Linked DNA regions of Homo sapiens. The protein of the gene in region 2 purifies or fractionates together with the protein of the main gene of each other region. This does not show direct contact. Each region holds a gene or a part of one and is shown on either strand. Other genes may lie near its edges.

Region 1 (3,654 bases), on a different chromosome or scaffold from region 2:
TATTGTACAGCTGGATGTGGCCTTTACTATGACTAGCAATGGAAAAGCTCCTACATTCAACTCAGTTTCTATTTTCTATTTGGTTTTGAAGATAAAGTTCAATGAAAAACACTGGGAAAGTTTATACTTTAAAAATAAGTTTTAAAAAACATTAAAATGTACGTAACTTGGGAATACTTTTTCTTTTTGTAAATACCTGAATTATGATTTCACACCCCAAAAAATACAAGTAACCAACCCAATCTGCAACAAAGTGCTATCTGAAAACCGTCATTCAAAAAAATGACATCTTCAACAATCCTTGGGATGGAATACCACCTTAGTAATGGCCACCTATTTTTCTGGTATATATGAAGATGAAATATATATAAAGTTGGCCGGGTGCAGTGGCTCATGCCTGTAATCCCAGCACTTTGGGAGGCTGAGGCAGGCGGATCATGAGGTCAGGAGTTTGAGACCAGCCTGGCCAACACAGTGAAACCCTGTCTCTACTAAAAATACAAAAATTATCCAGGCATGGTGGCACGTGCCTATAGTCCCAGCTACTCAGGAGGCTGAGGCAGGAGAATGACTTGAACCCGGGAGGCGGAGGTTGTGGTGAGCCGAGATCGTGCCACTGCACTCCAGCCTGGGCAACAGAGCGAGACTCCGTCTCAAAAAAAAAAATAAAATAAAAAAAAAAATAAAATAAAATAAAATATATATATATATATATATATATATATATATATATATATAAATAATATATACATATAGTTAAAAGCTATATTTAAAGTGTTAAATTATTATGACCTCTTATGGCAAGTTACAGAATTTTAAAGGCAACTGAAGTCAGGTGTGGTGGCTCACGCCTGTAATCCCAGCACTTTGGGAGGCTGACGGGGGTGGATCACCTGAAGTCAGGAGTTTGAGACCAGCCTGACCAACAAGGTGAAACCCCGTCTCTACTAAAAATACAAAAATTAGCCGGGCATGGTGGCAGGCGCCTATAGTCCCAGCTACTCGGGAGGCTGAGACAGGAGAACTGATTGAACAGGGAGGCGGAGGTTGCAGTGAGCCAAGATTGCACCACTGCACTCCAGCCTGGGCAACAGAGCGAGACTCTGTCTCAAAATAAATAAATAAATAAATAAGGACAACTGAATTCAAAATGTTTTAAAAGGGTCACTACTTATCTTGTAGCAATACACACTAATTTGCTAAATCAATAAATCATAAACACTAAGCATACTCTTCATTGACATAATCAATCAAATGCAGGTCTCCAGATGTATTTTAGAGTTTGAGAAAAATTTTCAGGTACCATATGGCAATGGCAACCTACTCAAAAACAACTCTACACTGCATAAGATTGCAGAGTCATCCATCTTCCCAACTGTATGTTCAATGAAAGTTCCCCAACAAAAAACAGCAGTGCTTTGTAGTAACCCTTTGCTGTAAGAAAAAACAGCTTTCTATATTAGAAAATGCTAATCCCAGCTGGGCACGGTGGCTCATGCCTGTAATCCCAGCACTCTGGGAGGCCAAGATAGGCGGATCACCTAAAGTCAGGAGTTTGAGACCAGCCTGGCCAACAGGGTGAAACCCTGCCTCTACCAAAACTACAAAAATTAGCTGGGTGTGGTGGCGGGCACCTAGAATCCCAGCTACTTGGGAGGCTGAGGCAGGAGAATCACTTGAACCTGGTAGGCGGAGGCTGCAGTGAGCCGAGATTGTGCCACTGCACTCCAGCCTGGGTGACAGAGCGAGACTCCGCCTAAAAAAAAAAAAAAATGCTAATCTCTTAAATGTGGCAGGAACATTACAGAAAGAGCTTTAAATGAGGCACATGATCTAAAAAACAACATAAAACATTAGCTTACTGATTTATACTTCATCTTGTTCCATTGGCAGATATCCTCATTCTCCAAAGCACAAGGGGCTGCCACTTCTGAGTGAGCCCAGCATTTCAAAATCGGGAACTCTGAGAAAAGTGGTAGAAAATGATGTCAGAAAACCTGTATTTGGACTGAAAGCTAGGCTTGTATTAAACCTCAATAGACAGAAGTTGTCAAACATTTTAATACATTATGTATATGATCTGGACCCATCTATCACATTCTGTTATTTTAGCATCCTTTTTTATGTGAATGCCTAAGAAATTAGAAAATCACAAAAGTATTGCAAAAGTTGAACATGACTTCTTTTTTTTTTTTTTTTTTTTTTTTGAGACAGAGTCTCACTCTGTCACCCAGGCTGGAGTGCTGTGGTGCAATCTCGGCTCACTGCAACCTCCACCTCCTGGGTTCAAGCGATTCTCCTGCCTCAGCCTCCAGAGTAGCTGGGATTACAGGTGCCTGCCATTGCACCCAGCTAATTTTTGTATTTTTAGTAGAGATCGGGTTTCACCATCTTGGCCAGGATGGTCTTGAACTCCTGACCTCGTGATCCACCCACCTCAGTTTCCCAAAGTGTTGGGATTACAGGCGTGAGCCACTACGCCTGGCCAAACATGACTTCTTAATGAATCTCATTGTACTCAAATTTGGGGCTGCTCTTAAAAATTTAATGTAAACTTATTTTTGAAGCATCACTCAGAAAAGTGAACATATCGTAAGTGCAAAACTCGATAAATTTCCATATGAAACACACCCATAAAAGAGCATTCAGATAAAAAGACAGAATATCAGAATCCAGTTCTCTCAGGAGAGGAACTTTTTCAAACTTTATTTATGCTAAGAGGTACCTTTAATAGAAACAGAAAACAAGGTTGGATGAACAAAGGTAATATAATTGAACATTTTTAATTTTCTCGTCATGAAAGGTATGACGGTAACAAATGTAGTATTAAAAACTTCCCATCTGTCGGTTTTTAGTAACAGTGCTACTAACTTTTTTTTTTTTTTTTGAGACAGTCTTGCTCTGTCTCCCAGGCTGGACTGCAGTGGCGCGATCTCAGCTCACTGAAACCTCCGCCTCCCAGGTTCAAGTGATTCCCGTGCCTCAGCCTCCCAAGTAGCTGGGATTGCAGGTGCATACCACCACACCTGGCTAATTTTTATATTTTTAGTAGAGACAGGGTTTCACCATGTTGTCTAGGCTGGTTTCGAACTCCTGACCTCAACTGATCCGCCTGCCTCGGCCTCCCAAAGTGCTGGGATTACAGGTGTGATACACTGCACCTGGCCCCAGTGCTACTAACTTTTATAAACATTCTAAATCAACCCAAATTTGAAGACACAAAGAACCAAAAACTGAAAGGGGCTTCGTAAACTAAAGAAAATGTCTTGGCCAGGTGCTGTGGCTCACGCCTGTAATCCCAGCACTTTGGGAGGCCGAGGCGGGTGGATCACGAGGTCAGGAGTTCGAGACTAGTCTGGCCAACATAGTGAAACTCCGTCTCTACTAAAAATACAAAAATTAGCCAGGCATGGTGGCGCAGCCTGTAGTCCCAGCTACTCAGGAGGCTGAGGCAGGAGAGGCGGAGATTGCGGTAAGCCGAGATTGCGCCACTGCACTCCAGCCTGGGCAACAGAGCGAGACTCCGCCTCAAAAAAAAAAAATAAGAAAGAAAGAAAGAAAACATCTTGAGAAGACTGCAAACTGCAAAAGCTTTTTATTTTTTTTATTTTATTTTTTTTTTGAGACGCAGTCTCGCTCTGTCACCCAGGCTAG
Region 2 (3,654 bases):
TTAGGCATGTGTAAAAGTTCTTTAGAGTGTACCTTCTCATTTTTTCCTTATAAAGACAAATGATTTAATTTCTTAACAAAGAAAATTTGTTATAAATTAGAGTATGTAAAAATGTGAAGTTCTTTTAATGATATTTTAGCCTTTAATTGCAGGCAACCTGTTGAAAGAGGGCATGGAAAAAATGTGAAATTGGCAGACATAGAATTTCTTAGATTCACACTTGTAAATTGAATAGACAGAAAGTTAAACGATATGGTTAAAAGCAAAGTTGCCTTATGTATTTGTAAATTATAAAGTAATACATATTTTCAGATTTTTAGTTAAAATCTCTGTCATTTTCCCAGCCAACATATTGTTCTTGCCTAATAACTTTGTTAACATTGGCAAGCTCAGTTGCTTACTGCTAAATGGCCTGGACGATTCCAGTGTGACTATTAAGAAATTGGGTCTTGTTTGCAGTGCCGGGAAGTTTATACTGGGAACAGCTGTGGTGTAGTGGCACTTTAGATAGGAGATGAATGAACCGTGAATCATATGAAGATGGAGACTGATCAGTATGCAGAGAAGTGTATCTGTCCTTCACTTATGGAACCTGATTTTATATCATATGATGACTAATAGCATTATTCTCACAGTGTGATTTTGGAGGATCAGTGAGTAACTAGAGATGTTGTCTTTTATGTTTGTGAATTTAAAATGTATTCTCCTTACATAAGACTATTGTAAAAGGTATCTATGAGCTTAATAAAATTGTAATCAAATCCCTCTACCACGTTTACTTTTAAAAGTTAATCAGCATAATAAAATGTGCCTTTATGCTTAATTGTTTAATATAGTGTTTTCCTAGATGCAATATATTTTTCATCTATAAAGTTCAGCAAGTCCAGCAGAAGCCCTGTTCTGAAAAATTACTAGCCTTTCAGAACTTTGGAATAAAATTTCAACATCAATGGAAAGTTTTAATTTTATGAAGAGATAATCTAATGTATATGACAGGAGGCAAAATCAGTTAAATTAGAAGTTAGTTTCTGGTGTCTGAAAGGCCCTATCTTCTCCATTAGGGAATATATCTTTGTTCAGATCAAATGCTAAGCAGAGTATTTCTTCAAATCACTCATCACTGCATTGCTCCCTCTGCCCACCCTCCACGGAGAGGGTGTGCAGGTATGAAAGGCTTCCCTCACTTTTTTTTTTTTTTTTTGAGATGGAGTCTCACTCTGTCGCCCAGGTTAGAGTGCAGTGGCATGATCTTGACTCACTGCAACCTCCGCCTCCCAGGTTCAAGCAATTCTCTGCCTCATGAAAGGCTTCCCTTTTCATCAGTGAACTAGCACCTGGAGAGCTCTGTTAGCCTGCTACCTTCCCTAGCAGTTGCATGCCCCAGACAGTATAGATCTCCATTAGTGTTGTCTTCAATGCAAGAAATAAAAATAATTTTGGTCTGGGCACAGTGGCTCATGCCAGTAATGGCAGCAGTTTGGGAGGCCAAGGCAGGAGGATTACATGAGGCAAGGAAATCAAGATCAGCCTAGGCAACATAGCCAGACCCCATCTCTACAAAAAGTGTAAAAACTTAGCCAGGCATGGTGGCGTGCACCTGTATTCCTAGCTACTAAGGAAGATGCAGTGGGAAGATAGCTTGAATGCAGAAGTTCGAGACTGCAGTGAGTCAGGATCATGCCACTGCTCTCCAGCCTGTACGAGAGTCTGAGACTCTGTCTCTACATAATCATCATCATAATAGTAATTTTGGTTTGGTGAAGCAATTGAAAATATTAAACCATAATGTGGCTTATGTGATAACTGTGTGACCTCAAACATTTCATTCCCCACTGTACACTTGAAGACCATAGTAGTTGCCCTGTCCATACCATGGATTGGTTTTGAGAATCCAGTGCATGTGGATGTGCTTTTTGAACAAACTCTGAAATGCAGTGCTTGATTGGAACCCAGAGCCCCCTCAGTACACCATGATGGACAGCACTGAGCGCCAGTATGTAGTGGCCCTCTGGCTCAGTTTTTGGCCTCTGTGTGTTGTTTTCTATCCAGAAGTTTTGGCAGCTTGCAGATTCCCCAGCCTCTGGCAGGCTCTCTCTTTTAGGCTGGCGATCTGCATTCTCCCACCTGTTGGAACTTCCCGCTCATCCCCTCCTGAAGGCCAAGGACTCTGGCTGACGTGCACCTTCTTAGCTTCCTCTGCTGAGGCTGCAGCTGCAGCTTGCCACATTGACACAGACCTAGGGTCCAGTAGTGATGACAGGAAGTCAACAGAAGGAATATTCTGAGCCCCTGCCAGCTTCTCACCAATTGTGCCAGTTCATCCTGAAGCCATCCGGAATATGAACACTTTGAGAAAAACAATGGTGGCCAAAAATTAAAAACAAAAAACAAAAACCAATTTGATAAACAGTAGCTGGCAGATGCCTTGTGGGCTTTGAGACCTTGCCTTTCCAAGCCTGCTCTGCATGGGACTCAGGAGCCTGGCCCTTCTGATTCCACAACCAGTGCAGAGTCTGTCCTAACCCTAGTGAGCTCTAGCAATTCTCATGCCCCCCTCACCTCAGTTTCTCTAACTCCTGTCATATTTACCATTTCGTAGGACTAGGATTTTATTGAGTTTTCAATTTGCACTTTCAGTACTGGATTTAATGTCTGGCCTGGGAAAATTTTAGCTATGACCTTGGCAGTCAGCCTCGCCCTTGCCAAGAACTTCTCTCCAGGAGCAAGACCCCTTTCTTTCTATTCTGTCTCTGATTCAATCTCAGTGTGACAAACCCTTGGACCTAAGGCACAGCTCCTCTCCTGACAGTGCATCATTTCCGCCTGAGACTTGTAGTGCCCGGTTCCACTTGACAAATAAATTCTCCTTGTCTGTCATTGTTGGCAGGATCAAATCTCAGTTCTCCACACCTCTCCCAAGCAATGTAATTTGAGTGGCTGACTATCCACTACAGAATTAATCCTTCATTAGGTCATTTGTTCTAGCCCAGTCCTAGCCTGCTTCCTGTCCCCACTGTTCCCTTGAAATTTGGCATGCCAGCTGAGCCATGACATCGTCTACCTTCTGTCACCTCTAGCACAGGAAGTGGTGCTAATGTAGACATCCTGGTTCAGGCAGGATATCCGCCGACTACTGCTGTTCAGATAAAATTCAGGTGAGTTTAAACCAAGGTGAAATACTTTCAGCCTGTTTTGGAGAGAGTTCCCAGAGAGAGGGGCTACCAAGTGTGTACTTCCCTGCATTTATGGCTGTGAAGTGTTTTGGTGCTCTTCTACTGAAGCCTTCTAATTTACCATAGGTAGCTATGGCTATAGACATAGATACATATAAAAATATTCTGTCACTAAACTGTAGGAAAAAGGAGCTGCTAACAGCCTTTGTCTACATTTTTTAAGACTTGTCACTTTGGAGTACATTTTCTCCCACTAGAATTGCCCATGGGATCCAGACTGGAGGGAAACCTGGTTACTGCTAACTATTAATACATACAGGCCAATTCTTGCCCACAGCCATTTGACATTCCATCGAGCTAGCTCTCACTTCCATTGAAACCTAATCCAGTGGTATTTTGTAGACTCACAATCCATATAAATTTTGGCTGAGCATAGTGGCATACACCTGTAGTCCCAGGTACTCGGGAGGCTAAGGCAGGA
Region 3 (3,654 bases), on a different chromosome or scaffold from region 2:
AACGATGTTTTGTAGGTAATCCATTCATTATTTGCATACATTTTACATAAATCACCGCACAAAACAGAAAGATTAATATTTTAATTACTTTGTTTTCACATTGAACCAGCTGCACAAATTCAATGTAACTATTAATGGTGGCAGCCAAGCAAACAGAATTTCTTATGCCTAAATAGATAAAATTTATGTGCACCAAAGAATTGAAAAAATCTGATAAAACTTACTTGCTACTCCTGATGCAAGTCCATAAAGCAGTCCTCCCCCATCCGACTGCTGAGGGAAAACATGGGCCCCTGGAGGAGGTGGCTTTTCTTGTCTGATAAAGTTATATAATAAGGTCTTCACAAGTTTGCTGGTGTATGGAAGACTATACAAAAAGGAAAAAAAAATCAAACTCATATTTATGGGAGTCATCTAATTCTGAATAACAATACAGAAATAATTCTGCCATTAACACTATCTGTTAATACAAAAGGGCTATTGGCACAACTCACAGAAATTGAGCACTGCACACAACAGTGAAGACCATGGGCTTTGAGAGCAATTTTGAGGCTTAATCCTTGCTTTTCCTCTTATCACATCATAAGATATTGATCAAATTACTTAAATACTTTTTTTCTGCAGTGGGGAGAAACAAGGTCTGGTAGAGACAAGGTCTCACTATGTTGCCCAGGCTGGTCTCAAACTCCTAAACTCAAGCGATCCTCCCGCTTCAGCCTCCCAAAGTGCTGAGATTACAGGCGTGAGCCACCGTGCCCAGCCCACTTGAACTCTTGAACTCCAGTTACTTTATCTACATTCGGTATAACACTGTGAGCTATTATAAATTTAGTGCATAACACATTATCTGGCAATTGAAGGGAAGTAGTAATAAAGAATCAGTAGAAAAAAGCAAGAATTTAAAAATAACAATAGGACTACACTTTTTAAGTATGAAATTATTCAATTATTCAATTGGTATTAAACTAATTCCTGCAATATAGAGTAAACTTTTTAACAGATTCTTTAATGTACTATTGAGCTTTTTAAATATGGTTTCCAAGATGAACCCCAAAAATAAGTAAAGAACATATTACGGTTTAAATATGTGGCACCATAATGATACTATAAAAACCTTACTTAGAAAATAAGAACACTAACACCCTCTATGTCTATTTTTAAAAAGCAACTTGAATACTCTGGCACTATAAGGGATGAAGTTCACAATCTTGTTTCAGCAAAGATGCACACAGTCCCACGATGCCAGCACTACTTCAAACCACGGTCATTCTGAGTGTCATTCTGAGTGTCTCTGTCAGAGAGGGTTCCAATGCAAACCTCTGACTCCAAAGCCCAGATCCTTTCCCTCAGTGATTTTCAAATATGTTCAAAGAACATACATGCCACAGGAATAATCAGGGTAGCAAAAAGAATATGAAGAAGACAAAGCTCCCCACTATCTGAGAACTTTCCTCAAAGGTACTTTATTTGGATTTGTTTTACATTTTTAAAGTTTTGTGAAGATTATGTTAATAAAAGGTCAGGTATGTGCATATGTGTTGGTCATTTGCATCCACACCCTCTAGGAGATCGTAAGCTTCTGCTCAAGAGCATAGCCCCACAGTCTAACATGCCTGGCACATGGATAGCACACAGCAAATATTTGCAGGCTCAAAGAAGTAGGAATAGTCAGCGAAGAGGCTGCTGGAGAAGTCCAAAGAGAGTAAGGGGGCATAGATCACAGGTGTTTCAAAGGGACTGCTGAGAAGAGGAAGATACAAAAATAATCTGAATAACAAATATGACTTGACTGCTTAAACATAGACAGAATGAAGGAGATGGAAGAAAAAGATGATTTCAAAGTTTCAATTCTACGAAGCAACCACTGGAGAAGGTAATGAAGCTACGGGACAGGAAGAACAGGGAGGATGGGTAGATGGCACAGGAAAGTAGAATGCGGTTCCCTATGCACTGGGTTTAAAGAGACAATAGAACAACTAGAGGAAATACCTGGTTGGAGATATGGGACGATACTCAGGTAAAAGGACAAGACTAGAAATATAGATTTATACAATGAAAAAACTAGACATACTTAAAGTAGAAACATACCATGGACCTCGCATCAAATACTTGTGGCTGATGCTCTGTCGCAAAACTTCTTTGTGGAAGAGTTGGCAGGAAAGGAAAACAACCATTGTTGATATAGCTTCTACTGATATTTCATATGTAATATCTCTAAAATGGAAGAAAAACAGAGTAACAGTCACTTTGGAAGATTAAGACACTATTCTTTTCTAAATGAACTATACATTTAAAAACTCAAATCTAAATATTCAGTATTTTCAGGTTACTGAAAAATGTTAATACGTTTAATACAAAAATTAAGTCAAGCAAAAATATTAAACTCCTTCCCTGTCATTAGCTGGTGTATTTGGGTTAGTTATCCCTTTATTTCCCTATTTTCCAGTTTCCATCTCCTATTAAATGACAAGTCTATTTATGTATAATGGAAATAGTTACTAGCAGTGTTCTGTTTTGAAGATTCACTCTAGACATCTATGTTCATTTCTGTTTAGTGATAATACAGAGACAAATACTCAGATTGTAAAGCTGAAGAGAAGGTACAGTGTAGGGAAGAAAACAATGCCTTTTCATGTTGATGATCACTTTACAATCAGAACAATAATACACCCTAGATCTTGTGTCTCTAGTGCCTACCTTTCTCAAGGTCAACTTTGCATGTTCAGCAAAATATTAACAGTAAACAAGTTATTCCTGTTTTATTAAGCATATTTTGATTATGAAGGGTTACTCTGTCCTCTCAAGATCATAAACCCCTTTGGGAAACAAGTCTTAGATCAAATAAAAAGAAAAAGATTCAGCTGAACAGAAAGCACACAGAGGAATAAAGGCATCCAGAAATTTCCAGTTACTGCAAAAGTTTAAACAGGATTATAATGGGGAACATGTTAAGACCAAGGAAGTAGAAACCTCAACAACGCAGTAAAAAGAGCAATAGCACCAAAAGAATACTAAAATATTTTTATAAAAATGAAATAATTATGAAAAACAAAGAAAAATACTTAACACCTACTTAAATGAAAGCTCATTAAACAAATTAATGATGACTTGATTCTAGAACTAGAAAAATTTAAATTCTACCAGATATCTTAAGGAGTTATTACTGATAGAAATATGTTTAAAAGGCCAGGCTCAGTGGCTCACGCCTGTAATCCCAGCACTTTGGGAGGCCAAAGCGGGTGGATCACCTGAGGTCAGGAGTTTGAGACCAGCCTGGCCAACATGGTAAAACCCCATCTCTGCTAAAAATACAAAAAATTAGCTGGGCATGGTGGCGGGCACCTGTAATGCCAGCTACTAGGGAGGCTGAGGCAGGAGAATGGCTTGAACCTGGGAGGCGGAAGTTGCAGTGAGCCAAGATCGTGCCATTGCACTCCAGCCTTGGCGATAAGAGCGAAACTCCATCTCAAAAACAAAAAATAAAGAAAGAAAAAGAAATATATTTAAAAATGACATATAAAAAAAGAAAAACACAAGAGACCCACGCAATTAGCCTTATTACGTGGTTGAATAAAGCTCAGCTCTACTCAGAAATCTGACTTTTAAAGTATTGTAGAACAATCTCTTTCCTGAAATTTCCATAATCACTGTTGT

What was found.
Region 1: the proteins of CHRM3 (region 2) and PIGX purify together in Homo sapiens (affinity purification with mass spectrometry; 2 studies listed by BioGRID and IntAct, with this or other methods). This does not show direct contact.
Region 3: the proteins of CHRM3 (region 2) and DYM purify together in Homo sapiens (affinity purification with mass spectrometry; 2 studies listed by BioGRID and IntAct, with this or other methods). This does not show direct contact.

Annotation. Positions count from the first base shown.
Region 1 is NC_000003.12:196,729,301-196,732,954, reverse strand, and holds part of PIGX (GPI alpha-1,4-mannosyltransferase I, stabilizing subunit isoform 2 precursor), read right to left. Parts: intron 1,964-3,654; coding exon 1,863-1,963; intron 1-1,862. UniProt on the Homo sapiens protein: Stabilizing subunit of the glycosylphosphatidylinositol-mannosyltransferase I complex which catalyzes the transfer of the first mannose, via an alpha-1,4 bond from a dolichol-phosphate-mannose (Dol-P-Man) to the glucosaminyl acyl phosphatidylinositol (GlcN-(acyl)PI) intermediate to generate alpha-D-Man-(1->4)-alpha-D-GlcN-(1->6)-(1-radyl,2-acyl-sn-glycero-3-phospho)-2-acyl-inositol and participates in the sixth step of the glycosylphosphatidylinositol-anchor biosynthesis.
Region 2 is NC_000001.11:239,389,416-239,393,069, forward strand, and holds part of CHRM3 (muscarinic acetylcholine receptor M3), read left to right. Parts: intron 1-3,654.
Region 3 is NC_000018.10:49,331,640-49,335,293, forward strand, and holds part of DYM (dymeclin), read right to left. Parts: intron 2,215-3,654; coding exon 2,089-2,214; intron 368-2,088; coding exon 225-367; intron 1-224. UniProt on the Homo sapiens protein: Necessary for correct organization of Golgi apparatus. Involved in bone development.